7 linked regions of the Homo sapiens genome follow. The protein of the gene in region 5 purifies or fractionates together with the protein of the main gene of each other region. This does not show direct contact. Each region holds a gene or a part of one and is shown on either strand. Other genes may lie near its edges. The genes, in order: LMF1, HS6ST2, ACP5, CANX, OGFOD3, SLC27A4 and DDI1.

Region 1 (3,771 bases), on a different chromosome or scaffold from region 5:
CACTGCACTGCAGCCTGGGCGAAAAAGTGAAACTCTGTCTCAAAAAAAAAAAAAAAAAAAGAATCAGAAAAAAAAAATCAGCTTTCTCTTTTCTCCTTTCAGATAAATTGTTGTAAGATTAAAACAGTCATCCCAGAAATGCCGTTCTCTGTTGATGGTTCTTACTGGCCGTGGTTAAATTCTGGGCCTCAGCACAGTGACCTCAAGTATTTTTTCTTTAAGGGATGTGCTGCAGAGCTCCGAAGTAGGGCAGTGCTGTTTGCTTTTTAAACAAGCAAGTATTTTATAGAAGAACTTGTAAAACCAAGTGGTGCATTTCATTAGAACTCAAGTGGCCCGGAGAAAAGAAAAAGAACTCATTTCCCATGAGCTCTTAGAGCCACTGAAAGCTCAGAACAAAACCAACTGAGCAGGGTTTCAAGTATTCTTTTTGGTTTCATTTTCTCCTCAAATTTTCTGAAGAACAGCTGAGAGTTTAGCAAATACGGGTGCAAACGATTCTGCCTGCCACGTCAACCCTGCCTCGGGTGTCATCTGACGAGGATGCCAAGCTACAAGGGCTGCGGTGAGACTCAGAGACACGCTACCAATGGCACCGCGGCCCCACCTCGCCGAAGCAGCTGCCGGGGAGACGCGATAAAACTGCCCCACGCGGAAAAGAAGGAAGGGCGGTGAGCAGGCGCACAGAACAGACGCCACAGTGCGGCACGCATGCCTCCACGCCTAAAGGACAAAACTAGCATGGAGATCCCCTAGAGGTCGGATTTTCAACATAATCTCAGTGAGCCCAGGACTCCAATGTGACAATGTGGAACTGGAAAGACGAGCAAGAAAAGCCCCTCCGTTCCCGCCAGCGTTGGGCATTCCTTCTGCAGTCCAGGCTGTCCCCGTCACTCGGGATCACAGCCAAGCGGTGGGTTCTGTGTGGTGCTTGGCTCCTAGGGCCTCGCGGAAGCCATGTTCTTCTCCATTCAGCTTCATGGAGAGACTTTCCCAGGTTTCAGCCCACGCTACGAAGCTAGACAGGAGAGTGGCCCCCACCCGCCCTGTTTGGAACCCAGCTGGGGCATGCGGTGTTTGGAACACATGGGCAGATTGGGGAGAGGCCAGAAGAGCCTCATCCAGAGCCAAGGACAAGCCTTGAGGCTGAAGAGCTCACCAAGGCCACTACAAGAGAGCAAAAAAAAGAGCCTCAGAGACTCCTCGATAAATAACCAGAACAGAGAGCAAAGGTGGAGAGCAGGAGGGCAAGGCACTGAGACTTTAGAAGCTTCCAGGGAGAAGAAGAGTCAGATGCTTGAAGATGCCTCCTCAATGCTGCAAAGCTCTGAGGGAAAGTGGCTTTGATGGAGAATTAGAGATCCGGGCAAGTTGGTCCTTTCTGGAAAAGCTGCTTGGGGATACACTCCAGCAAAAAGAGAATCCACCAGCAAACAGGAAGGCATGAGCAGCCCAGGAAGTATGAACACAACCAAGGGAGGGCTGTGGCAGTATCTGTCCTGCTGGGCCGCACCTCGGGGCTGGAGGTGGGTAGAGGGGAAAGAAGGGGTAATGGCTGGAAAAGTGTCCCATGCTGACACTAAGCCCTGGTAGAGACCACCTGCTACGGGTCAGCACATTTCACTGAGCAGGAGATGCCCCTAGAAGACAAGGGATAGAGGTATAAAGAAAGTCCTCTCCCTGACTGCAAGGAGCTAGAGGGGAGACAGGCACAAGAACAACACTGGAATGGGGACAATATCAGCCGCAAAGGAAGCAGAGAGCAGGGCTCCGGTGGTCAGCCCTGGGTGGGGTCAGGAGTCCACGAGTGATGAGGGCTAAGTCTGAAGGCCAGAAGGGTGTCGGCAGCCACGGAGAGAACAAGTACAGTTAACCCTGGGAAGGCAGAGGCCAGGTGGTCTCAGGACCACGGTCAGGAAGAGATGCCTCACGTGGCGGGGACACAGCGGGAGCAGTTCAGGCACCACGGCTCGTCCACTGGGGCCCCAGCCTCTCACTGCAAGCAGTGCAGGTGGACATCTGCCCCAGAGGCAGCAGGGAGCGTGTGTCCCAAAGCCCCCAGCACTCATGCCCTGTGCAGGCGCCGAGCAGCCGGCCCTGGCCGGGGCGGTTCCCTCCTAGGCCTGTCCAGGACTCGGCCCCCACAAACACATGGACCGACAGACGAAATCCCTCAGGAGTGTCTCTGCGCCGACGCCATGGCACCCACGAAAAGTGCCACACATAAAGTCAGTCTGCAAATGCCAACGTTACCCAGTCTTCATGTCACATTTCACCTACAGATCCCTTCCGAATTGTAACAATATCTCATAAATGTTTGAGCTTCAAAGGAAAGGTCCTTTCCGACGTTCAGATATATATACTCCGTGGCTGCCTGCGAGCCGTCTCCCAGGCGGGTGTGTCCTTGGTCCGCCTTCTGGGAAGTGTGCACAGGCAAGGAATCCCATGTCAGCCTCAGGACGGCCCAGCGGTCACTCTCACCTCATCAGTGACAGGAAGGTCTTGATGAGCAACTTGGCCAAGGCCACACAGCTAAGGTGTGGCCCACCAACCCTGAGCCCCACTACTTCCACCTGTCACAGCTTCCAGAAAGTTCTCTGCAGTGAACTGCTATCAACCCAATTCTGACCAACTGTAATTACACTGTTTCCAGATAACACCTTAATTCTGAGGCAGTTAAAATGCATTGTGTACATATACTATGTGACTCTCATCAATAGCAAACCAACGTCAGTTCAGTCCAGGAGAACCCACCCAGGGTGGGCAGCTCTAGCCTAGGGTGTCTTCAGTAGCACCTGCAAGGCTGTCCTTCCCCCGTCTTGTCAGGGAATCCAGCTCTACCACTGGCGCTGTAACAGACACAGGGCTGCTGGAAATTCCAGGAGTCCAGCCCCAGCTGCCTGTGGCCGCCCATGGACGGACCTGGCCAGGCCCCCTGGGAGGGGGATTTCAAAGCATCAAGGAGCCGGCCTGGCTGACGAGGCTCCAGACCAGCTGTTTGCCACACACGCCCCCGTACTGCAGGGTTGACCAGTGAGGGCCTCAATCTTCCGCAGGGAACGCCGGGCCACAACGTCGACGCACGACCCTGGGGGTTCCTGCCATAAAACAGTGAGGGATTCTGGCCAGGCTGCTCTGCCCTCTGTTCCGGTGAGCCTGGGCATGGTGCCCACTCTTGGGTTCGGTTTCCTTATTGCGCACACAGACAGCAGCAGGCCTGACTGCAGGAGGCACCGGCACCCATGGGCGGCCGGCACTGCCCCTACACACCAAGAACATGGCACCCAGGTCCCGCTGCTTAGGCCGGAAACTCCTGTCACATAAGCTTTTACTCGTCCAGATTTCAGCCATTCCTGGGAGTGACATCTGTGCTGAGGGGAAGCTCAGTGTCAGTGTCAGGCATCCCCGACCACCTCGGGCAGCCTCGGTCCTCCCAGGAGCCGTCACGGCCCGAGAACGCCGCTGCCCAGATGTGAACCGGGTGTCCAGGATACGCAGGCTGCACAGTGGCGTGAATGAAGGGCAGGGCTGAACTCCAGGGCCTACGGACAATCGCTGCACAGCCGGGCCAGTGGCTGACCCTGCTTCCTCGCTGTCCACTGGGGGTAGTGGCGTTGTCACCAGGAGGTCAGCACCGGGCAGGGTGCTACTTCAGCATCTGCTCAACGCAGTAATCACACTAGGGACCCGAGTCCACACGTCAGGAAGACAGGTGTGTCTTCAACTCTGAGCCCTGTGAAAATGCCGCTTTCCGCTAACACACTCCGGCTC
Region 2 (3,771 bases), on a different chromosome or scaffold from region 5:
TATTGTCCTCTGTGCTAAAGATATCAGCCCTGAGCCTGCAGTTTCTGTAGAAATAACTCATTTACAACTAATTCTCCTGACAATAGTACACACATTAACCAGGAGTTGTCTATTCCTTTACTCTAATTAAGTTTTAGGGTTAGACATAATCATTCTTACCCTGGCCTGGAACACTGGCAAGCCAACTTGAAATGTAAAACCCCAAAGCAATTCAATATTTACTAAATTTAAAGGAAGTAATCAATTTCTAATTCAGATTTATGTACATTCCTTTCCCACTTTAACACTGTCTTATTTCCCTTAAGTTCCTCTTTGGTCATTAAGATTGTCAGCAAGATTATGGCCATTGAACAATTTGTGACATGTTGCAGATATTTCTAAACTAAATTAAATTGTCAATGTACCTGCATATAACAAAAAAAAATGTATTAGACACTTAAGGACAGAGACCCTATATGTTCTATATTCACAGCTGTGTTGCTCCACAGAGAGCTTGGCATGTTCTGTAAATATCTGCAGAATGAATGAAAGAAAAAAATCTATCACTGATAGAATTATTTGCACACATTCAAAATCTCAGGCACACCTGACCCAGCATATGTGTATGTGTCTACACACACATTTGCTCTCACAAAATTCCCACCTGCTCATCATTCAAGTTCAGTACATCATCTTTCCCCTTGGCACGTGCGTTTCTTAAACAAAACACTGAAACAAGATTAATGATAATAAGTGTCCAAAGAAAGACGATTTTGGCCAGGCATGGTGGCTCACGCCGGTAATCCCAGTACTTTGGGAGGCCAAGGTGGGTGGATCACCTGAGGTCAGGAGTCCAAGACCAGCCTGACCAACATAGTGAAACTCTGTCTCTACTAAAAATACAAAATTAGCCAGGTGTGGTGGCACATGCCTGAAATCCCAGCTACTTGGGAGGCTGAGGCAGGAGAATTGCTTGAACCCAGGAGGCGGAGGTTGCAGTGAACTGAGATCGCGCCATTGAACTCCAGTCTGGGTAACAAGAGCGAAAAAAACTCGTCTCAAAAAAAAAGAAAAGAAAAGAAAGATGATTTTAATTAACACTTCTTCCAAACATGCCAATCTTCCAGCACCTAAAAACTGAACTCAATTTTCATCTTAGGAAGCTGTTCCCTTATCCCTAGAAAATATAAACCTTTTAAAGTTCCAACTGCCAATTGACATCTCCAGTGCATAATAACAGAAATTCACAGTTTATCTGTTATGCCTCCCCTGGAAAGCTCAGTTTGAAGCACTTTGCTAACTTAGACCACTGTTACTTCTGCTCAGACTAATGCTCCATACTTGTGCCTTGTTTTCAACCCTTAATACTTCTGAAGCTAGATTCCTCCATCTGCATTCCTGAGAAGGATGACAAAAGCCAGACTACGCTTTCAGTCTCCTAGGACATCCTGCCCTGGAGATTCTCAGCAGGCAATTGGAAATTGGAGTTAGCCTGGGGCTCCGGAATGAATTAAGGGTTGGAGAGGTCAATTTGGGAATCATTAGTGTAGAGGTTAAAGGTGAAGCTATGTGAGGAGGTGAAGTTACCCAGGGAGAAAATATAGCAACAGAAGAGAAGCAGATCAATGACAGGACCTTGGGAATTGCTCTATTTAAAGGGGCAGTGGGGGAGGGAGAAGATGTGGGCACGCGTGTGTGTGTGTGTGTGTGTGTGTGTGTACGTGTGGAAAAGAGATCCCAACAAAGGAAACCTAAGGAATGTAGAGAAGACATCAAGATAGATTATGAACCCTTTCAAGCAAGAGAATATGTGCAAAAGTGCCAGAATCTCCAAAGAGGTCAAGAAGACTGAGGCCAGGGAAGAGGCCATTGAATTGTGAAACATGGTGGTCACAGGTAACCTTTGGGAAAGCAGTCTTTCTGATGCAAATCTTATGAACTTGTGTGCCCAAATATGCATGTGTACAGGTGTATGTGTAAGTACCCCAAATCACTGTAAGATTAAATATACTATTGAGTGAGGCTGCCGCTGGGTATGCCAAAAAACGATGGTAATAACCACCATTATCGACTGTTTACTATGTGACAGGAACAGTGCTAAGCACTTGATATGCACGATCTCATTTTAATCCTCAAAACAAGCCTATATACTGGCTACATTTCACATATAAGAAAACTACCTGAAGCCAACAGAGATGAACTAAATTACCCAACGTCACACAGCTGGAAAGTAGCAGCGCCAGGATTGGACCCGAGGTCAGTTTGACTCTAAACGCCTAGACTGTCAGTCACTGATGTAATGTTTCCACTATAGTAATGTTAATTAGGTAATCTATGCATGAAGGAAAGAGAGCTGATATTGGTTGAGTGTCTCATTGCCAGGTGATTTGCATAGAACATCTCCTTTCACACATATACCATCAACATTATGGCTATGTTTAGGTAAGCCTTATGAGGGCATATTTTTAAAATTCTGATTCAGTTGTTTTGAAAATAAGTTGAAACTATATGATTCCCAAACAACCAGTTATCATTCAAACTTACTATAATAGTTCCCAACGTTTGAAAGGTACAAAAAAAAAAAAGTGTGGCATCATTGATTTGGTGGTTGTTATCAAGATTCAAATTACTGACAATCATACTCATCTGAAAAAGGAGGGAGTGTGACGGGATGATCTTAAAGCTCCCCTCCAGCCTGGACTTTCTATGATTCTTATATGCAGGTCTAATGCCAATAATTTTAAAGATATGAAATATGTAGTAGAATGTAAATGCAGCAGCAGAACTGATTGGCATGTCAGCATCCTTTTATTCATTAACTTTATAGAGGTCTATTGTTAAAATATTATAAAAATAAGTCTGGCTGTTCAAGGCATTGATTGCTAACTGAAACTTGGAAACTCCATTACAAGATGATACACTGAAAATCCAACAAAATAATTTGCTTACAGTCAACTGCAGACCCTATGATACAGTTGGCTATAGGAAAAAGAGAGAGAGATTGACAGGCACTCTGGCTATTAATGTTTTTGCTGTCCTTAGAAAAACAAATGAGGTTCTGGTCTGAAGCAATTAGTATCGCTGTTAATTGTGCAAGTGTGTAGCAATAATACTAGGCATTTGGGATGGCTTCCACTGATTGTTCCCTTCTTTCTCTGGATTACAAAAATCTATTCAGACAACTAAAAAATAGCAAGTACTTATGCAAATTGTTAATTATGAGGCAGCGATAATCATAATCTTGTATATTTATGAAACTGCATATACAATGGGGATTACCAAAAATGTTATTTGTTTTATTGCTTTACTAGTGGTTGAAAAATATGCTAGCCTTGCAAATAGTTTTCATACATCATTCAGCTCACCAAAATTCAAAAAGGGCCCCATTGATATTTACCAAAACCGTTTCTTTCCCATCTCACCATCTGTACTCCTCTTGTTTTCTCTCATTAAGACCAGGTATTAGTTGCTCTGGCAATAATCTGGTCCAACTAATCAACACCATAGTAAAAATAAAGAGTGTGTCAGGATTTGCTTTGTTATACAGCAAAACTGTTTTAAAGAGATGGTCCTATCATCTAGCAATTTTAAAGCAAAAAGAAAACAAAATTCTCAAGACTTCCCCATAAAAGCTATTATAGGGATAGTGGTACCTATGTTATTGACCATTGTCTTAATGGTCATCCGCTCCATTTTATTTTACAGGCGAGGAAATTAAGGCTCAGAGTGGAGCTAGTGCTTGACAAAAGTCACCTCATTAGTAACAGAACTTGGTACTTTGCCTCCATGACA
Region 3 (4,397 bases), on a different chromosome or scaffold from region 5:
GGGTCAGCCCTGAGCCCTCGAGCAGGGCGGATCGGCCGCTGCCTGCTTAAAGCTGGGGCCGCCAGGAGTGCGATCGCCTGCGGATCTGCAGCTGGGCACCGGCCGCAACGCCCGCCCCGCGACGGCAGGTGAGATGCGGGCGGCCCCGTGGGAGGGGTCTCTGCCTGTCCTCGTCACCCACTTCCTTCCCGTTTGTTGCTGCTGCAGGGCTGGGAATGGGGGGGACCAAGCACTTCGCAGGGTGACCCGGGGAGATCTGTGAGCCAGTGGCCTCAGCGTTGAATGAGAGCTCTCTCCCGGGTCCGCGCTCGCAGGGACTGAAGGGACTCCTGAATGTCCGCGGGACGTGTCGCGGCGGCGCCCAGCACGGAGGAGGCAGGCAGGGAGGTGAGGAGCAGGTCAGACCGGCCGCAGGTGCAGGGCCTCCTGCCCTCCCAGGCTGCGGTCCCGTGGAGGGCCTGCAGACAGCTGCTGAGACTATGAGGGTCAGAGGTCTGTGGTCACGCGCGCTATCACCAGCTAGCTGCCTCCTGCCTGGTTCCTCCTGCAGGAATGGGAGTCTGGGGGGAGGGGAGGGTGTGGGCAGGACTTCCTGGAAAAGGGAAGCCCGTTGGTGTTTATGTGTGGGATGGAGAGAGGGCAGGGGGAGGACGGGGACACACGCGGAGTCCCCCACCCAGATGTTGTCAAACACAGCTCCCACACCAGACACGCAACCCATCCTAGAGATGCAACCCAGGCACACACACATGGACACACACAAAACTCCATCCATAGGGATTCCCACCCAGTGCCACGTGAGAACACAGGCGTGCATCGCAGACAAGCCACACAGGCCTCGCAGGCTCAGCATACATGTCTGCAGCAACACCATCAGGTACAGAGCCGAGGCCCAGGTAGGCATGCTCAGCTGCACGCAGGAAGCAAGACACACCCAGACACACACAGGTAAGCCCTTACTCAGAGAAAGAAGGTGCAGGAGATGTGTCTTGGGTAATCACAGCCACAGCCTCTCAAGTGTGCACACACACACACACTCACACTGAGATACACAGACACACAGAGATACCTGGACGTGTCAAGCCTACAGCACAAACAGGCCCCTGCAGGTCCACCCGGAGGCTGTGTGGGCCGAGGCTGCTGCACACGTGTGCCCAGATCCTCCCACCCCCACCCCAATCCCGTGTCCTGCTCCAGGGAAGTCCAGGGCTCACATGACCCAAGGGGAGGGCTCCCGGGACAGCCCTCGGAGAAACTGCATCATCCTCACTAATGATCCACTTCCTCCTCAGGGAATAAAGGCTCAGGGACCGGCAGTTCTACTCTAGAGCCCACCAGCCTCTCAGAGCCTCCGGTGACTGGCCTGTGTCTCCCCCTGGGTGAGTGCTGGGCAGGCTAGGTGGAAGGAGGGTGAAATGGGCCTGCAGGGCCATCTTGGTACAGCTCGCCCTCTCACAGACCGCGCCCCCCTTCCCTAAGCCAGCTTGTGCAGCCTTGTGCAGCTTGTGTGTCCTGAGAATTAGGGCACCAAGGGGTTCCCGCAGGGGCAGCCTGCAGCAAGCAGTCTCCCTCTATCTCAGGGCAGGCGGGGGTCTCAAGGCCTCCCTGCCCTTGTCACAGCCCGGGCCACCTATGCTTGTCTCTCTTCTCCCAGATGGACATGTGGACGGCGCTGCTCATCCTGCAAGCCTTGTTGCTACCCTCCCTGGCTGATGGTGCCACCCCTGCCCTGCGCTTTGTAGCCGTGGGTGACTGGGGAGGGGTCCCCAATGCCCCATTCCACACGGCCCGGGAAATGGCCAATGCCAAGGAGATCGCTCGGACTGTGCAGATCCTGGGTGCAGACTTCATCCTGTCTCTAGGGGACAATTTTTACTTCACTGGTGTGCAAGACATCAATGACAAGAGGTTCCAGGTCTGTGCCCAACAGAGTGGGGCAGGAGGTGGGGGCGGGCAGTGGGGAGAAGCCGCCTTACCTAGTGACCTTCCTTTGGTGAGGGCAGAGGGAAGGTGATGGGGCACCTTTGGGCGCCGGGAGCATTCAGTGTCTCCCTTATCCTGACTTGGTGGGAGGATCGGCATAGCCACTGACCCCAGGGAAGAGGCCTGCCCTATCTGTTTGCTACAGGAGACCTTTGAGGACGTATTCTCTGACCGCTCCCTTCGCAAAGTGCCCTGGTACGTGCTAGCCGGAAACCATGACCACCTTGGCAATGTCTCTGCCCAGATTGCATACTCTAAGATCTCCAAGCGCTGGTGAGCCACCCTCAGCCCTGCCTTCCGAGATCCTCACATAGCAGGGACACAGGGGCCCTGTGGCTTGAGCTGACCCTGGGACTTCTGCGCCCAAGATGTGCACCCACGACCTCTATCCCCTCCACAGGAACTTCCCCAGCCCTTTCTACCGCCTGCACTTCAAGATCCCACAGACCAATGTGTCTGTGGCCATTTTTATGCTGGACACAGTGACACTATGTGGCAACTCAGATGACTTCCTCAGCCAGCAGCCTGAGAGGCCCCGAGACGTGAAGCTGGCCCGCACACAGCTGTCCTGGCTCAAGAAACAGCTGGCGGCGGCCAGGGAGGACTACGTGCTGGTGGCTGGCCACTACCCCGTGTGGTCCATAGCCGAGCACGGGCCTACCCACTGCCTGGTCAAGCAGCTACGGCCACTGCTGGCCACATACGGGGTCACTGCCTACCTGTGCGGCCACGATCACAATCTGCAGGTGAGGGCCCTGTGGGTGGGGTGGGAGCTGGGTGAGGGGGGTCCCCATCCCAGCTGATGTCCACATGGCTGGGGTCCTCCTGCTGTTTGAGGGTCTCCTGTGGCCTTCAGAATGTCTAGACTGTCCCTCAAATCTTGCTGTCTAACCAGGAAAACACTCCAAAGCCAGAATAATATCTTCGAATTGCCAATTTCTTTCTTTCTTTCTTTTTTAAGCTCTTTTTTTTTTTTTTTTTTGGAGACAAGGTTTCATTGTTTTTCACCCAGGCTGGAGTGCAGTGGTGCAATCGGGGCTTACTGCAGCTTCAATCTCCCGGGCTCAGGTGAACCTCCCACTTCAGCCTCCAGAGTAGCTGACACTACAGGCATGGGCCACCACATGCAGCTAATTTTTGCTTTTTTTTTTTTTTTTGAGAGGGAGTGCAGTGGCACGATCTCAACTCACTGCAACCTCCGCCTCCTGGGTTCAAGCAATTCTCCTGTCTCAGCCTCCCAAGTAGCTGGGATTACAAGCATGGGCCACCAAACCTTGCTAATTTTTATATTTTAGTAGAGACGGGGTTTCACCATGTTGGCCAGGCTGATCTCGAACTTCTGACCTCAAGTGATCTGCCCGCCTCGGCCTCCCAAAGTGCTGGGATTATAGGCATGAGCCACTGCACCTGGCCCTTGCGCATTTTTTTTGTAGAGGCAAGGTCTCACTATGTTGCCCAGGCTGGTCTCAAATTCCTGGGCTCAAGCAATCCACCCCCTCAGCCTCCCAAAGTGCTGGGATTACAGGCATGAGCCACCACACCTGGCCACCAATTTCTTACTAAGTGCTCTACCTATGAAATAGGATTAATACACTCCTAAAAGTCAGGAAATTGAAGCCAGGAGGGGTTACATACCTCAAGGTGACTCTGTGGTTAGGGCCAGATCGAGCCCTGGACCTTAGGCAGGGCTCTGCTCAAAGCTGGGTCTCCACTGACCCCTTGTCCTCCATCCTCAGTACCTGCAAGATGAGAATGGCGTGGGCTACGTGCTGAGTGGGGCTGGGAATTTCATGGACCCCTCAAAGCGGCACCAGCGCAAGGTCCCCAACGGCTATCTGCGCTTCCACTATGGGACTGAAGACTCACTGGGTGGCTTTGCCTATGTGGAGATCAGCTCCAAAGAGATGACTGTCACTTACATCGAGGCCTCGGGCAAGTCCCTCTTTAAGACCAGGCTGCCGAGGCGAGCCAGGCCCTGAACTCCCATGACTGCCCAGCTCTGAGGCCCGATCTCCACTGTTGGGTGGGTGGGCCCTGCCGGGACCCTGCTCACAGGCAGGCTTTTCCTCCAACCTGTGGCGCTGCAGCAGGGCAGGAAGGGGAAACACAGCTGATGAACTGTGGTGCCACATGACCCTTGTGGCACAGATGCCCACGTATGTGAAACACACATGGACATGTGTCCCAGCCACAGTGTTATGCTCTGTGGCTGGCTCACCTTTGCTGAGTTCCGGGGTGCAATGGGGGAGGGAGGGAGGGAAAGCTTCCTCCTAAATCAAGCATCTTTCTGTTACTGATGTTCAATAAAAGAATAGTTGCCAAGGCTGAACCAGTGCCACTGGTGTGTTATGTTCTCCTGGTTAGAGTGGCTGGGCTCCCCTGAGCTGCTGTTCCTTGCCTCCATCTCTTACCCC
Region 4 (3,771 bases), on a different chromosome or scaffold from region 5:
TTTTGTGGCCTCTTCATCTGGAATCTTAGCAGGGGCATCTTCATCCCTTAAATACAAAAGAAAAAGCCAGTTATGACAACACTGGTCACAGTATAGTACCACTTTGTGGATCAGAACAGAGTATTCTAAAAAAATTTGTTTTTAATCTCAAAATTTAAAATAATTCCTCTTAGAAAATACTTGTAAATCATATATCTGCTAAGGGCCTAGTAAAATAACTCTTTACAACTCAATAATATAAAGACAACCCAATTTAAAAATGGGCAAATGATTTTAATAGACATTTCTCCAAAGAAGACATACGAATGTAAAAATATACAATATGAACATACAATAAGCACACGAAAAGATGCTTAACATCATTAGCCATCAGGGAAATGGCAAATCAAAACGATACCACTTAGTACCAAGTTGGCTCTAATAAAAAAGACTCATAAAAACAAATGCTGGAAAGAACGCAGAGAAACTGAAACCCTCATACACTGCTGGTGGGAAAGTAAAATGGTACTGCTCATTTGGAAAACAGTTTGGCAGTTTCTCAAAAAGTTAGTTACCACATGACCCAGCAATTCCACTTTTAGGTATATATACCCAAGAGAAATGAAAATATATATCTATAGCTAGACAGAGTGGCTCATGCCTGTAATCTCAGCACTTTGGGAGGCCAAGGCAGGAGGATCACTTGAGGCCACACCAGCCTGGGCAACAAGGTGAAACCCAGTCTCTAGTAAAAAAAAAAAAATACACAAGGCCAGGTGCGGTGGCTCACACCTGTAATCCCAGCACTTTGGGAGGCCAAGGCGGGTGGATCACCTGAGGACAGGAGTTCAAGACCGGCCTGACCAATATGACGACACCCTGTCTCTACCAAAAAATACAAAAATTAAGCCAGGTGTAGTGGCTCATGCCTGTAATCCTAGCACTTTGGGAGGCCAAGGTGGGCAGATCACCTGAGGTCGGGAGTTTGAGACCAGCCTGACCAACATGGAGAAACCCCATCTCTACTAAAAATACAAAATTAGCTGGGCGTGGTGGCACATGCCTGTAATCCCAGCTACTCAGGAGGCTGAGGCAGGAGAATCACTTGAAACCGGGAGGCAGAGGTTGTGGTGAGCCAAGATCACGCCACTACACTCCAGCCTGGGCGACAAGAGCGAAGCTCCGTCTCAAAAAAAAAGAAAAAACATGCACAGCCAGGCACGGTGGCACACGCCTGTAATCCCAGCACTTTGGGAGGCTGAGGCTGGTAGATCACTTGACATCAGAATTTTGAGACCATCCTGGCCAACATGGTGAAATCCCATCTCTACTAAAAATACAAGAATTTTTTGTAGTAGTGCGCGCTTGTAGTCCCAGCTACTTGGAGGGTGAGGCACGAGTGCAGTGGTGCACGCTTGTAGTCCCAGCTACTTGGGATGCTGAGGCACGAGAATCGTTTGAACCCGGGAGGCAGAGGTTGCAATGAGACGAGATCGTGCCACTGCACTCCAGCCTGGGTGACAAAACGAGACTCTGTCTCAACAAACAAACAAAAAACCCATAAAAATTAGCCAGGCGTGCATACCTGCAGTCCCAGCTACTTGAGAAGCTAAGGCGGGAGAGGATCGCTTGACCCCAGAAAGTGGAAGCTGCAGTGAGCCGTGACCGTACCACTGTACTCCCACCTGGGCAACACAGAGATCATGTCTAAAGAAAAGAGGCCAGGTGTGGTGGCTCACGCCTGCAATCCCAGCACTTTGGGAGGCTGAGGCGGGTAGATCACCTGAGGTCAGGAGATCGAGATCAGCCTGACCAACATGGTAAAACCCCGTGTCTACTAAAAATACAAAAATTAGCTGGGTGTGGTGGCATGCGCTTGTGATCCCAGCTACTTGGGAGGCTAGGGCGGGAGAATCACTTGAACTCGGGAGACAGAGGTTGCAGTGAGCCGTGATGGCGCCACTGCACTCCAGCCTGGGCGACAGAGCTACACTCCATCTCAAAAAAAAAAAAGCAAGAAAAGAAAAAACATATTTATGTAAAAACCAGTACATGAACATTCATAGCAGCATTATTCATAATCACAGACAAAAAGGAGCAAACAACCTAAATGTCCACCAAAGGATGGATAAATAAAATGTGGCATTATCAAAACAGTAGAATTTATTCAATCATAAAAAGGAATGCAGTACTGATACATGCTTCAACACAGATAAACCTGGAAAACACTGTGCTAAATGAAAGAAACTGGACAGAGAAAGCCACATACTGTATGATTCCATTTTATATGAAATATACAAAGTGGACAAATGTAGAGAGGCAGAAAGCAGGTTAGTGGTTGCTGGGAGTTGGGGGAGGAAACAGGGAGTGGCCGCTTAATGGGTACAGGGGCCTTCTTAGGTGATAAAGCTAGTTAAGGAATATAATACTGAACAAGGCTAAGTCCAAATCTAATATACACCAAATATACAAGTAAACTTGGCATTTATACTAGTGCAGTACAAAAGTTCAGTTATATGTATCTTACCTTTCAAGGAGGAAAAAGATAATCTAGAATGTAATTGCTAAGCATAGGAGGATATTTTACAAAGGGTAAGAATTTCTTTGTTCACTTTCTGACATTTCTGGAGTCACTGTGTGAAGTTGCAAGTTCAAAGACAGCCATATACAAGAATACAGCCCCAGCTATCTTCATTTCTCCTCACTCTTCAATGTGCACCCTACATAAAAGGCCATGTAATTTCTCCCTCGCATGTCAAGCTCATTGCTGCTCCTCTACTTCTGCATACGACATTCTTCAATCAGAAACACCCCTTCCCATATTCACCAACTCCTTAATTCTCACCTCACTGCCAAGTCTCAATCTGATTTGCCTTGCTCCAAGAAACCATGCCTAGTTTAGGTACACCTGGTGCTCTGGTCTCCTGTGGCACCTTCTCATGAACCCTTACGATACCACATGCCAACATCATGCCTCACAACTGGACTTCAAGCTCTGTGTAGGCAGATGGTGGTGTCCTTGTGGCTTTGTATTCTACCACCCAACCCACAGCAGAGAATTGACTGTTGTTTAAATAGGAAAAAGGTTATTTTTCAAATTAAAATTTAGCATTTCAGAACTTTGGCTTTAAATGTGAGTTCACAGAAGCCCTGGAGTAGCCAGGTTAAAGGACCTGAGATTCTGCCACAAACCAACAGTGTCACCACAGACAAACTCTTATCAAGTGTGGCATTCTGTGGCTTGTAAAATGGTGAGTCAATCCAGATGATTACACTATGGCCCCTTTCCAGCTATAGTACTCTATATTTTCCCTACAGATTAGACTGCATCATGGATTACTGAAATTATCAGAGCTTACTCAACCAACATTTCGTTGTTCAAGCCACATGGAATATATGAAATGCTCCCTTACACTTGAAGACAGTTCCCCAAGACTCACCAGTCATCTGGCTTGACAGCTTCTGGATCTGGGATTTTTGGTCTTTCATCCCAATCCTCGGGCTTCCGGTCTTCTGGGTCCTCAATTTCACGTGAAGGATTTACAGGAGGAGTCATGTCATTGAGCAGATTTCCACTATTCACCACAGATTGGTCAACCAGTATTTCAAAACTATTATCTGGATTCAAGACTGAAAGAAACATTAAATGGAATTAAAAGTACTTAATTTTCCAAGCTCCCTTTACCATAATACAAAAGATCATGACTTCTAACGTGAAGCAGCAGAAGTCTGACCTGAGGCTTTGGGGTAAGAACAATGCCTGGCTCCTGGGGTCTTGGGGAAGCTAACGCC
Region 5 (3,771 bases):
CAGAGGTGAACGCACTCCAGAGGGGAGGGAGGGAGACCCTGACCGCCAAGGTGACACACACCAGGGAGGGAAATGGATGGTGCCTGTCAAGGTGACACACACCAGGGCGTGGAGGGGGGCTCTGCCGCTGACTGACGGTGACCTCAGACATGTGGCCCCGTAGACACCAGCCTCCTGGGTGTTGGGACTGGCGCTAGACCTGGGAATCACTCAGCACCGGCCCGGCACACAGCAGATGCTCCGTGAACTCAGCCTCGCTCCCAGGGACACGCCCCCCACACCCACCGTGCTTGCCTGAGCCAGGAGCCCCACGCCCAGGCCCCGCCCGCGCCTCCTACCAGCTCTCGGCTCCACCGTCTTGTTGGCACCCTCCTCCATGAACATGAACCGCCCTCCGCCGAAGTCCTCCAGGTAGTTGGAGAGGTACAGCAGCGAGGTGTAGTCGAAGGAGCCGTAGGTCACCTGAGGGCAGAGCCGGGAGGAGGGGGCAGAATGGGCTCTCAGCATGCGACCAGGGCAGGTGCTGCTTCTCTCTCTTATTTTTTGTTTATTTATTTTTTGAGACAGAGTCTTGCTCCATCACCCAGGCTGGAGTGCAGTGATGCGATCTCGGCTCACTGCAATCTCCGCCTCCCAGGTTCAAGCAATTCTCCTGCCTCAGCCTCCCGAGTAGCTGGGGCTACAGGCACCCACCACCACACCCAGCTAATTTTGTATTTTTAGTAGAGACAGGGTTTCACCTTGTTGGTCAGGTTGGTCTCAAACTCTTGATCTCAGGTGATCCACCCACCTTGGCCTCCCAAAGTGCTGGGATTACGGGCATGAGCCACTGAACCCAGCCTCTTTTTTTTTTTAATAGGGTATCGCTTTTTTTACAGACAGCATCACTCAGGCTGTAGTGCAGTCACAGCACTGTCATTGCTTACCATAACCTTGAACTCCTGGCTTTAAACAATCCTCCTGCCTCAGCATCCCGGGTAGCCAGGACCACAGGCGCACGACACTACAACCAGCTAATTTTTTCTTTTCTATTTTTTTTTTTGTAGAGATGGCATCAGTCCACCCACTTTGGCCTCCCGGGTGCTGGGATTAGAGGCATGAGCCACTGTGCCTGGCTGATTTTTGTATTTTTTGTAGAGGTTGGGGCGGGGTGGTGGGGGCAGGGGGGCGGGTCTCGCTATGATGCCCAGGCTGGTCTCAAACTCCTGGCCCCAAGTGATCCTCCCACCTCAGCCTCCCGGGTGCTGGGATTACGCGCGTGAGTCACCAACATCTGTGCTTCTTATTTTCCAGAAGGTAAATTAACAACATGTGTCGGCCCCATTAATGAGGCCATTTGTTCCTTTGCAACTTTAAAAACCCTCTGCAGAGTCTCCAGCCTCATGCATTGTTGCCCAGGATTTCCTGTAAGCTCAGATGTTGGAGCAGCCGTGTTCCAGCAAAGGCTACGGGCAGCAGGCCAGCCAGCAGGGTGTGCATGCTGGGATGGTCCCCCGGTGCCAGCCTCGCTGCCCACACGTGGGAACCAGAGGCAGCGGTGGACGCGCTTTTCTCCTTTCTTCAGAAGTGGAGCAATCCCAAGCTTTTTAAAACTTGTAATAAAATGCAGAACCTAAGATTTTCCAGCTTAACTGTGTCTTCACTGTTTTTAAGCACAGTTCAGTGATGTTAAGCACATTTCCAATGTTGTGCAGCCACCGCACCGTCCTCTCCAGAACATCTCATCCTCCCAGGCCGAAGCTCCGTCCCCAGGAAGCACTGACTCCCCACGCCCCCCAGTCCTGCCCTCTCCATTCCGCTTTCTGTCTCTGTGAACCTGGCGACTCTAGGGTCCCCACGGACGTGGGATCAGGCAGGATCTGTCCCTCCGTGACTGGCTTACTTCACTCAGGGGTCGCAGCACTCAGCTTCCATTCCAGAACCCAGCTGGGGCCACGCCCTGGGGGTGAAAGGTGCAGCTGCCAGGACACCAGCTGCAAAGGGGAGGGCGCATCTCACCCAGCTCAGCTGTCATAAGCACACCCAGACCAGGGAGGGAAAGAGACACTCTGGGGAGGGAAGGGGGATGGAGCCGCACCAGCGCGGAACTGGACACCCACTGTGCGGGCGCTGAGCTAGGTACATCACACACAACAGAGCCTCGTGTGCAGTGGAGAGAGCCCAGGCTTGAAGGCAGACACCGGGCCCTCCCCCTGGGCAAGGTGGCCTCCTCTGAGTCCTCCTGGGAAGGAGAGCAGGATCACGCTGGGGCCCAGCCCCCAGTCCGACCCGCCAATATCCACCTCACATAATCCGCTGTAAGGAAGCCCAGTCTCAGGTGGTGCCCTGGGCGGTGGGTCAAGCTCCCTCCCCCCTGCCCCTCCCAGCTGCCAGGAGGCCCCTTGGGCTCAGCTCCCATGGGCTTTGCCCCCTCCAGGCCTCACAGATGCCCCCCGGAGTCCCCCCTTAAAAGCTTCCCAAACACAAGTCCATGCCAGGCTCTGATTCTGGGGAGACCAGAGTAAGACAGACGTCAAGTGAGCAAAGCCGCGTGCGGACTGCACTGCCTTCTGTAAAAAGGAAACCATACCAGGGTCCATGATCTGACAGCCACAGCTGCCTTATGTTATGCAATGGGAAGAAGGAACAATTGCCAAAACTGTTTTAAATGTGATTCTTTACAACTGACAGAATGCGGTATTCTTATGCATTCGTTTTTATACACACAGAGAAATTCAAGAAGGAACTCTGAGATCTCAGGACTGTGGTTACCTGTAGGTGAGGGGGTTACTGGTTCGCCTTTATTTATATACATATATATATATATGACTTTTAAATCTTGTAGGATGCATTACTTATTCAAATATTCAAATTTTGATGCATGATTTATTCAAAACTAAATTTAAAATAAAGTACACTGGCCAGAAGTCATAGCAAAATAGCTCCCCACAGAACACCACGAAAATCACCCAGGTTTCTAAACAGTTCTGTTTCACTGAAGTAAAGTCTCTGCTAATTAGAAAAACACTGATCTTCAGACGCCACTTTGGTTTCCTGATGAGCAGACAAAATTCGGTCAGGGGCCATGGAAGGAGCCGGGAGCGACCGGACCAGGGCGAATCTGCTGTCTGTGCCGGCGGAAGGCCAGTAAGTGCCGTGCAGTCGTGAAAAAGGAAGTGGTTAAAGTGGTTACGGCAAAGCGGTGGCGCCGGCTGCTCCCGACACTGCAGCCCGAGAGGGAGAGAGGAGGACTGAAGGCAGTCCCAGGCCTTGGGTTCCTTCACTGTTCCTGTTCCCTTGGGTTTACCTTTTTTTTTTTTTTTTTTAGATGGAGTCTTGCTCTGTCACCCAGGCTGGAGTACAGTGGCGCGATCTCGGCTCACTGCAACCTCCACCTCCTGGGTTCATGCCATTCTCCTGCCTCAGCCTCCCGAGTAGCTGGGACTACAGGCGCCCGCCACCACGCCCGGCTAATTTTTTGTATTTTAGTAGAGACAGGGTTTCACTGTGTTAGCCAGGATGGTCTCGATCTCGTGACCTCGTGATCCACCCGCTTCAGCCTCCCAAAGTGCTGGGATTACAGGCGTGAGCCACCACACCCGGCCCTGGGTTTACCATTTTAATGCCAAGTAGCAGAGTGCCAAGATGGCAGATGCTGATTGCAGATTATAACTGCAATCTCTCTCTCCTTCTGATTACAACTGAAACTGCACAGAGTGCACTTTGGGAGGCAGAGGCAGGTGGATCACCTGAGGTCAGGAGTTCGAGACTAGCCTGGCTAACATGGTGAAA
Region 6 (3,771 bases), on a different chromosome or scaffold from region 5:
TGTGACAGCCCTAGAGTTACCTGCTGAGTGGTAGAGGGGGAGGCAGTCATAGACGATGTCGTTGGGCCGCATGCGGAATCCATAGTACACCAGGGCAGCCATGCGGTAATACCTGGGAAGGCACAGGGCCAAGGGCTGAGCGGGCCCTAGAAAGGCAGAAGGAGGCTCCCCAGCCCTGCCTGTGCCTACCCCACCCTGGGCACCTGCCCCTTACCTGCTGTGCACCACGATGGCGGCCTTGGGCAGCCCTGTGGTGCCGGATGTGTAGATGTAGAACAGTTTATCTAAAGAAAACAGACGCGAGTGGCTGTCGGGGGCAGCTCAGGGCTGGGCAAAGGGTCACACAAATGGACACCTGCAGGTGTGCACCCTTCAACACCTGTTCCCATCACACCCTTGCTAGGAAGCCTGTTCTGATAACCTCAGATACCATTCAGCTCTAACACCGGCATCCATTCCAACAAATATTTCCTGGGCCCTTGCTCTGTGCTAGGCCCTGGTGGAGAGAGACATCAGTGAGTAAGATGGGCACGGGCCTGGCCCTCTTGGCAGTCACAGCTCAGTGGAACAGTCAGATGAGGACACAGGCAATTCCAATACTAAGCAACAAGTGCCGAGGGAGGGCACAGGACCTGTTGAAACCCAGTAGCCACATTTGGCCCAAGCTTGCAGGAGGGGAGGTGGTGCCAGGTGGGCTTCACGATAAAGGTGACACCTGCCCCAAGTCATAGAGCACAGGGAGGCATTAGCTGCAGGAAGTGGGGTGTTGAGGTAGCTTCCGCACTGCTGAGCATTGATCTGTCCCACTCTGCAGCCCTCGACAGGGATTGCCACGTTAGAGTTTCTATGTGAGGCTCGGCCCTACCAGACTTGAGGTTCCCTGGAGGTCAGGAACTCCACAGGCAGACTCCACGTGTTTAGAATGCCTGCCGAGACACCTCATGCTCTCTGCCTGCCTGCTGTTTGCCAGCCCTAGGCACTATGAGGGCACCAGAGCAACCAGCCAGAGTCCCTGCCCTCAAGCAGCTGACAAATGCACCCAAGAGACCAGATTCACATACAAGAGAGAAGTTAAACAGTGCTGATGACAATGACCAGTTACTGAGCCCCTCCTGCCACACCCTAGCTTCAGGACTGGCCCCACTGTATTTTTTTCAACCCTCAAAGATACCCCATAGAGTAGGTTCTGCTACTGTCCCCAGTTTTATGGCTGTGGGAACTGAGGCTCCAAGGGCAGGGCAGGTGTCAGGGTTCACACAAAGGAAGCAGTAGAACCAGGATATAAACTCGGATCTGACTCGACAGCCCAAGCTCTGAGCCACCAGGCAATGTGGCTTCACAGGAAAGAGAATGAGAAGAGCAGAAGAACCAGGTAGGCTACAGTATAAAAGAAGAGGGGTGAGAGGCTCAGGAAGGCTGCCTGGAGGTGGGGTCAGGGAGGCAGCACAGTGCTGGGAGAGGATCACAGCTGGAGATCCTGAAGTGTCCTGCACTGAAGAGGCACTTGATGAATATACAAAGGGTCTTGCTCCTCACCCACCCTCCCACCCAACCCCAACCAAAGCCCAGACCAGGCAGGTTCCCGGAGTCCACAGGATTCTGCCCATTAGGCATCAATGAAGGCTTGTTCAACAAATCACACTGGACTTTGTGAGCTCCTGTGTTCTCAGCCCTGTATCTGGCACTGATACACATCAGCTCATGTCACCTTCACAGTAACCCTGGAGTGGCCCAGGTTTACTGTCACCATTTTCCAGATGGAAAAAGGGAGGTGACGTGACATGTTCCAGGCACATGGCAAGTTTCCAGAAAAGCCTCCTTCTGGCACTGAGGCCAGTGCTCTGTCCAGGGCCTGTGTGAGAGCCCCTCTATGGGGAGGGGATGGAGCCCACCTGTGAAGCCCTTGTCAGGGCAACTGGGAAGGTGCTTGGGAGCATCTTTCAGCAGAGGGTCCAGGTGTTCTGTGCTTGGAGGCACCGCACCGGGCTCCCAGGAGCCAGAGCAGAAGAGGCTGAGCGAGGGGTCCAGGCTGGCATGGACCTCACAGATGGCTGTGGGGAGACAGGGCAGTCAGCAGGCAGGCCAGAAAACCCCATGTTCCCAGGGACCTCTGCTCCCAGCAGGGCTGGCCATGTTGCTGAGGATACTGGCTGGGCAGGAGGAGAGGCAGTGAAGCAACTGGGCCTTCAGTGTTGACAGGGGCACCGGCAATGGTTCTATTAGCCATGGGCTAACCACAGAGTAGGTCCGCTTTACCTGCATTCCCTGGTCTCACAGCCCTGGGAAGGAGGGACCATTGACAGCCCCTCTTACAGATGAGAAGATTGACGCTCCGAGAATGAGAGGACCTGCTCACAGCTAGAATGTGCTGGACCTGGCGTGCAATGCCAGCTCTACCTCACATCAAGGTCTGGGCTCCCCCCCACTATCCCGCACTACTTACTCTGTGGTGCACCAGATAGAAGGGAGGAGTGCGGGTCAGAGGCCAGTGGCCCTCCATCCCCTTCCGAGAGCGGGAACCTGCTTTCAGGCTCCCCTGCGCACTGCACGGACATCACATAACCCCCACCCCCGGGCATGGAGCAGCGCTGGTCGGCTTGGCCCCACCTTCCTGGCTTCCTCTTGATTTGCCCAACCCTCTCTTCTTCCCTGGCTGCCTTCTTCCCTCTCCCCTTTCAGCACCATTTTTTTCTTTCCTTTCTTTTTTTTTTTTTTTCTTTTGCTTTTTTTAAATAGAGACAGACAGGGTCTCACTATATTGTCCAGGCAGGTCTTGAACTCCTGGGCTCAAGAGATTCTCCTGCCTTGGCCTCCCAAAGTGCTGGGATTACAGGCATGAGCCACTGTGCCTGGCCCCCTTTCAGCATCTTTTTTTTTTTTTTTTTAAGACAGAGTTTCACTCTGTCGCCCAGGCTGGAGTGCAGTGGCATGATCTCGGCTCACTTGGTTCAAGTGATTCTTGTGCCTCAGCCTCCTGAGTAGCCAAGATTACAGGCGTGTGCCACCACACCTGGCTAATTTTTGTATTTTTAGTAAAAACAGGGTTTCACCATGTTGGCCAGTCTAGTCTTTAACTCTCGAGCTCAGGTGACCTGCCCTCCTTGGCCTCCAAAAGTGCTGGGATTACAGGCGTGAGCCACCATGCCAGGCCCCCTTTCAGCATCCTAATGACTTCCCTATTCATTATCCCACAACCACAACAGTGTGGGGAGAAAAAACAGAGTGCTGTGATCAAGCTGAAGATCAAACCCCAGTTCTACCACTTACTAACTGTGTGATCTTGGGTGAGCTCCTCACAAACCCCTCTGAACTCCAGGCTCATCATCCATAAAACCAAGATCCCTACCTCACTCGGTCTTTATAGAGATTAGAGCTGCTCTTGGAAAGCAGCAACCTCAGTACTTTGCAGGTGCCCAATGTGGCAGCAAATAAAATGCAGGCTCTGTGAGGAAAGTGGGGAATTAATTTTGTTCCCATTTTACAGATGAGCTAGATACGGCCTAATTAGTCACAAGGATGATTACCATTGTACTGAGGGGCCACCTAGCATCAGCCATGTTGCTAGTGCTTCAGGTAAGTATCTTTTTTTTTGACACGTAACCTCTCTCTGTCATCCAGGCTGGAACACAGTGACGTGATCTCGGCTCACTGCAACCTCTGTCTCCTGGGTTCAAGCGATTCTCCTACCTCAGTCTCCCGAGTAGCTGGGACTACAGGTGCGCACCACCATGCTCGGCTAGGTTTTTTTTTGCATTTTTATTAGAGACGGGG
Region 7 (4,247 bases), on a different chromosome or scaffold from region 5:
CTGGGTATAAAACTTTGTGCAAATGTAGACCAGACTGGGAAATGTGAGCATGGGAACACCTATAGAGAAGAAAAATGGGAGGTGAACTGATGGTGGCTAGAAAGGAAGAGGTGACTCTCTTTAGAAAGGTTGATTAGTATTACCAAGAAGCAAAACAAAAAGTATATGGAGATTATAAGGGAGAGTTATTTTTTTCTGTATCCTTTGGGAATGCTTTATGTGGCTTTATATCTTGTCGGGAAAATAGAATAACTTAAAGGATATCCCAGATCCTTTAAGATAATGAGGTTTTAGTGCTTGAAAAGTGACCCCTCCCAGGAAAAAAAAAATTATTAGGTGAGGAATCTCAGTTGTAAAGTAGGTGAACTAATTTGTCTAAGTAATTAAGTGTAATCAAAACATACACATCTTGATTTTGAATCCGCTGTTTTAATACTAGTTTTGATAAATTATTGTCCTGAAACATTTCCCCTGCATCTGATGGCCTCAGGAAGCTGAAACTTTTCTCTCAGGTGCTTTAGCCATGGGTTGTAATTAAGTCTAGGATCTTCCATTACCCACTGTCAGTTGTAATAAACACTAACATTGTCAGAATGGATAATTCTGAATGAGGCCTTAGAGATCTTCTCATTCAAAAGTTTTCAAATGTTATTTTAACAGTGAAAACCTTTGTTCAAACAATACTGATGTAGCAGCAGCTTAATGTATAAAGCAGATTTTTACTTTGAAAAAGAGAGAGAGATGATCTAGTTGCAATGACTATTAGAGAACCTGGACCACTGCCTGTCCCCACCTCTCATTCCCACCACTGTACAACTTGACTCCCAAGAAGTACCATAATTTCTTTTTTAAAAAATCTAATTTATTGCCTTTGTTTTATAGCCAGAGTTTCTTTGAATGCAGGAGAAATAGAAAATTAATGTAGCATCCTTGGAGATAAATCCACTTTCTCAAATATGGCAAAAATAGTCTTTAGCTGTGGATTGCAGGGTGACTGCAGGGGATCCAGGGGAAGGGAAGGTGTAAATATGAGGAAATTGGTCTTTATGCTGCCCCAAACAGACATGTATAAGTATTAGTTAACATCATAGTGTAACTGACCTACCATTTCTAATACCCTTCCCAAAGAAAACAAAACCTGTGAAAATGGGCATATTTCTCTCAGTAGAAAGAATTATTAGTGCTGATGTGAAATAGTTTTATGTGGATGCCTTGTAAGGTCTGCAGCCATAGCATTTTTCCAGGGAATTCTGCAAAATAGCAATGATTTGGATAAGCCACCTGTAATCTGATAGGATAGTGTCTCTAAAGGAAGAAGCTGGTTTTCTTTTTCATGGATTATCTGGAAATCAGCTGGAGCCTCCAGAGCCTTCCCAGGATGCCTTTCAGTGATCTCTGGACAAGGGAAATGGAAGAGGGACCAAGACCAAGGAATCAGGATTGACGTTAGTTACCCATCTGAGAACGTAGTCCCAAGGCCAGGTTTAGTTGTTACTGATGTTTTTTAATGATTACATTGCCAGTAAGCTCTTAACTTATAATTGCCGGGGACCTGAGGCTCCCTCAAGGTGGTAACATATTTATAACGTGCTTTAATGCTCTTTTCGTCCTGAATCCATGACTGAATGTGTAATTTCCTTGTCCGAAGACTCATCTTGCCCACTTACCATCCTAGAGCATAAGGGCAACTCTCCCTCAGGAAGAAAATAAGTCTGCGTGCCAGTGGTGCCGATGACCAGCACATTTTTCTTCAAATCGATGGAACATTGATGTCTCCGGAGCATATCTAGGCCTAGAAGCATATCCATGGGTTGATCCTCAAGTATGGAGAAAGAGCACTGTAAGAAATCACCTTCAATTTGAATCTGAGCTAGATGAACACGGCCAATAATTCTCTGTGTGCCCACTCCTTTAGCAACCCCAGCCCACCGTCGGTCCACCAGCCTCATGATGTTACATCGCTCGGCACAAGCCTGGCTCATAATGGTCATCTGGGCGCCCGAGTCAACAAAAGCCTTCAAAGGATGCCCATTCACTTTGCAGTTAATGTAGAGCATCGTCACTTGTCCAAAACTCTCGGGGGCCTCTTCTATCGCTATATTCATGTTTTCTTCAATGTTTTGCTGCCGGATTTCCTCTTCTATTTTGGCCTGAGCTTCCCGATCCAGTGGGTCGGCTGTGTAGAGACGAAGCCTCTCTTGCTCTCTCAAGGCCTTTTCCCTTTGCTGCTCCATCAGCACCTGAGAAAAGGTCTCAAGGCTTCCGCTGAGCAGGGCTTCCGCCAAGGGAGGGTTGCGTTCCTTGAGCAGGGACAGATCGTGGGGGTTGGAGAGCAGCATGCTGCGGATCAGGGCGGGGCTGCCCAGACCTTGCAGGCCGGCCACCTTCTCTCCTGACGCCAAGCCCTGTGACCGCTGGGCAGCGGGTGTGCGCTGCTGCTGCTGTCCAGGGTGCTGTGGACGGGAGCTGGACGTCCCAGGCACCGCAATGCCACTGAAGTCTACACGAGGCTGGTTCGGGGCACGCCCTGGAGCCCGAGGTCCCACATTGTCCTTCTGCAGTAAAACCACGATATCGCCATCTTTGAGGCCGTAGGAGCCCAGGGAACAGTGGTCCTCGATGAGGAGTCGCTCCATGTGGATGATCTGGATCTCTTCGACGGGGACTCTGGACTCCGCTTCGCAGAGGACCTTGAAGTTTCGGAGCTCAAAGTCGGGGCTGACCTGGAGAGAGAAGGTGACCTCGGAGAGGTCCCTCCGCACGCAGTACACGGTGATCAGCATGGCGGGGGCCCGGGCGGGCCGGGCTAGCAGAGGGCATGGGCGGCTCACTGGCGGGCTGGGGCGGGCCTGCGTCGTTGGTGCCGCTGCTCCTCAGGACTTGGTAGGTAGGGACCGTCCGGGCTCATTCACCTCTCAGAGAGGCGCGGACACTCATCTGTCTGGGGGCTGTCTCCCAGCCTCAGTGCCTGCTGTGTGGCCAGGTGGAGCCTTGAGGTAGCACGTTGTGTTCCAAAGTCCATTTCTAAGTGTGCTGTTTGGAACCTAGAATGCCTACTCCCATGGATACACGATGGCTCAAAGCTGTCAGGTTTCAAGGCCAGCCCTTCAAAGCCTATTTAACACATGATATGAAAGAAATGATTTCAACACATTTTTTTTTGAGACAGGATCTTATCCTGTCACCCAGGCTGGAGTACAGTGGCATAATCACAGCTCACTGTAGCCTCGACCTCGTAGGCTCAAGCAGTCCTCCTCTCTCAGCCTCCTGAAAAGCTGGAACTACAGGCACAGTCTACCATGCCCGGCTAATTGTTGTATTTTTTTTTAATAGATTTGGGGTCTCACTGTGTTGTCCGGGCTGGCCTCCAACTCCTGGGCTCAAGCAATCCCCCACACTTCGGCCTCCCAAAGTGCTGGAATTACAGGTGTGAGCCACCATGCCTAGTTTTTCAACACTTTCTAAACAGCATATTATCATTTGTTTTGTTCATTTTAGAGTTGTATTCTTTGTACTTTTGTTTTTTCCCCAAACAGTAAGGATTTGTTTCTTACATGGCAAGTACCATTCTATGTGCATAGTAGGAAAGTCAGATTTGGAGCCTGCCCTTGAGGAGCTCACATTTCTGGAAAGGGATAGACAGGTGAATGGGTAATCACAATACTAAAGGCAAAATCTTTTACAAAGACATGTTCAGGGTACTGCCTTTAGTATCACCAACAGAACAGAGGATATTTTCCTAAGGAGGAGACAAGCTGGATGTTGAAGGATGAGCATCTTCCAGGTGCAAAGTGGTCTCACTCCAAAGGAAAGCAGTTTCATGTTACAAAAGCAGGAATTTATGGCAAGGGCTGTTATTTCTAGAGAAAGATGAGACATTTTGTGCAATAAAAAAATTGTACATGACTTTGAATACCAGGATATGAAGCTGGAAAAAAATTAGTTGAGCCAATTGATGAAGTCATATGTGAATCTACGGAGTTTAAATATTAAATATTATCAATTAGCAAGAATTCCTCCTCCAAAAAAAAAAAAAAAAAAAAAGAAAAAGAAGTAAGGAAGGAAAGGAAAGGGAAAAGATTTGAAGCAGGTGTTTGTGATTTTTTTTTTTAAATTGACTTAAGGAAGAGGCTTCTTGCAACACATGGAGGACATAATGTGGCAGGAGGGCCAGTCAGGAGGCTTTTCCAGTGGTTCAAAGAGGGAGCTGTTGCTAGAGTGTGGAAAGTCAGGAGGCCCAAAGCCAA

What was found.
Region 1: the proteins of OGFOD3 (region 5) and LMF1 purify together in Homo sapiens (affinity purification with mass spectrometry, with the first as the bait; one large-scale study listed by BioGRID). This does not show direct contact.
Region 2: the proteins of OGFOD3 (region 5) and HS6ST2 purify together in Homo sapiens (affinity purification with mass spectrometry; one large-scale study listed by BioGRID and IntAct). This does not show direct contact.
Region 3: the proteins of OGFOD3 (region 5) and ACP5 purify together in Homo sapiens (affinity purification with mass spectrometry; one large-scale study listed by BioGRID and IntAct). This does not show direct contact.
Region 4: the proteins of OGFOD3 (region 5) and CANX purify together in Homo sapiens (affinity purification with mass spectrometry; 4 studies listed by BioGRID and IntAct, with this or other methods). This does not show direct contact.
Region 6: the proteins of OGFOD3 (region 5) and SLC27A4 purify together in Homo sapiens (affinity purification with mass spectrometry; one large-scale study listed by BioGRID and IntAct). This does not show direct contact.
Region 7: the proteins of OGFOD3 (region 5) and DDI1 purify together in Homo sapiens (affinity purification with mass spectrometry; one large-scale study listed by BioGRID and IntAct). This does not show direct contact.

Annotation. Positions count from the first base shown.
Region 1 is NC_000016.10:964,255-968,025, forward strand, and holds part of LMF1 (lipase maturation factor 1), read right to left. Parts: intron 1-3,771. UniProt on the Homo sapiens protein: Involved in the maturation of specific proteins in the endoplasmic reticulum. Required for maturation and transport of active lipoprotein lipase (LPL) through the secretory pathway. Each LMF1 molecule chaperones 50 or more molecules of LPL.
Region 2 is NC_000023.11:132,703,519-132,707,289, forward strand, and holds part of HS6ST2 (heparan-sulfate 6-O-sulfotransferase 2), read right to left. Parts: intron 1-3,771. UniProt on the Homo sapiens protein: 6-O-sulfation enzyme which catalyzes the transfer of sulfate from 3'-phosphoadenosine 5'-phosphosulfate (PAPS) to position 6 of the N-sulfoglucosamine residue (GlcNS) of heparan sulfate.
Region 3 is NC_000019.10:11,574,575-11,578,971, reverse strand, and holds ACP5 (tartrate-resistant acid phosphatase type 5 precursor), read left to right. Parts: upstream 1-1,326; 5' UTR 1,327-1,379; intron 1,380-1,654; coding exon 1,655-1,915; intron 1,916-2,128; coding exon 2,129-2,256; intron 2,257-2,383; coding exon 2,384-2,729; intron 2,730-3,618; exon of another isoform or gene 3,619-3,719; coding exon 3,720-3,962; 3' UTR 3,963-4,312; downstream 4,313-4,397. UniProt on the Homo sapiens protein: Involved in osteopontin/bone sialoprotein dephosphorylation. Its expression seems to increase in certain pathological states such as Gaucher and Hodgkin diseases, the hairy cell, the B-cell, and the T-cell leukemias.
Region 4 is NC_000005.10:179,715,943-179,719,713, reverse strand, and holds part of CANX (calnexin isoform d precursor), read right to left. Parts: coding exon of another isoform or gene 3,714-3,771; intron 3,610-3,713; coding exon 3,420-3,609; intron 47-3,419; coding exon 1-46. UniProt on the Homo sapiens protein: Calcium-binding protein that interacts with newly synthesized monoglucosylated glycoproteins in the endoplasmic reticulum. It may act in assisting protein assembly and/or in the retention within the ER of unassembled protein subunits.
Region 5 is NC_000017.11:82,397,858-82,401,628, forward strand, and holds part of OGFOD3 (2-oxoglutarate and iron-dependent oxygenase domain-containing protein 3), read right to left. Parts: intron 1,617-3,771; exon of another isoform or gene 463-1,616; coding exon 339-462; exon of another isoform or gene 1-338.
Region 6 is NC_000009.12:128,346,825-128,350,595, reverse strand, and holds part of SLC27A4 (long-chain fatty acid transport protein 4), read right to left. Parts: intron 2,052-3,771; coding exon 1,893-2,051; intron 285-1,892; coding exon 215-284; intron 113-214; coding exon 21-112; intron 1-20. UniProt on the Homo sapiens protein: Mediates the levels of long-chain fatty acids (LCFA) in the cell by facilitating their transport across cell membranes. Appears to be the principal fatty acid transporter in small intestinal enterocytes.
Region 7 is NC_000011.10:104,035,359-104,039,605, reverse strand, and holds DDI1 (protein DDI1 homolog 1), read right to left. Parts: upstream 2,967-4,247; 5' UTR 2,784-2,966; coding exon 1,593-2,783; 3' UTR 410-1,592; downstream 1-409. UniProt on the Homo sapiens protein: Probable aspartic protease. Seems to act as a proteasomal shuttle which links the proteasome and replication fork proteins like RTF2. Required, with DDI2, for cellular survival following replication stress.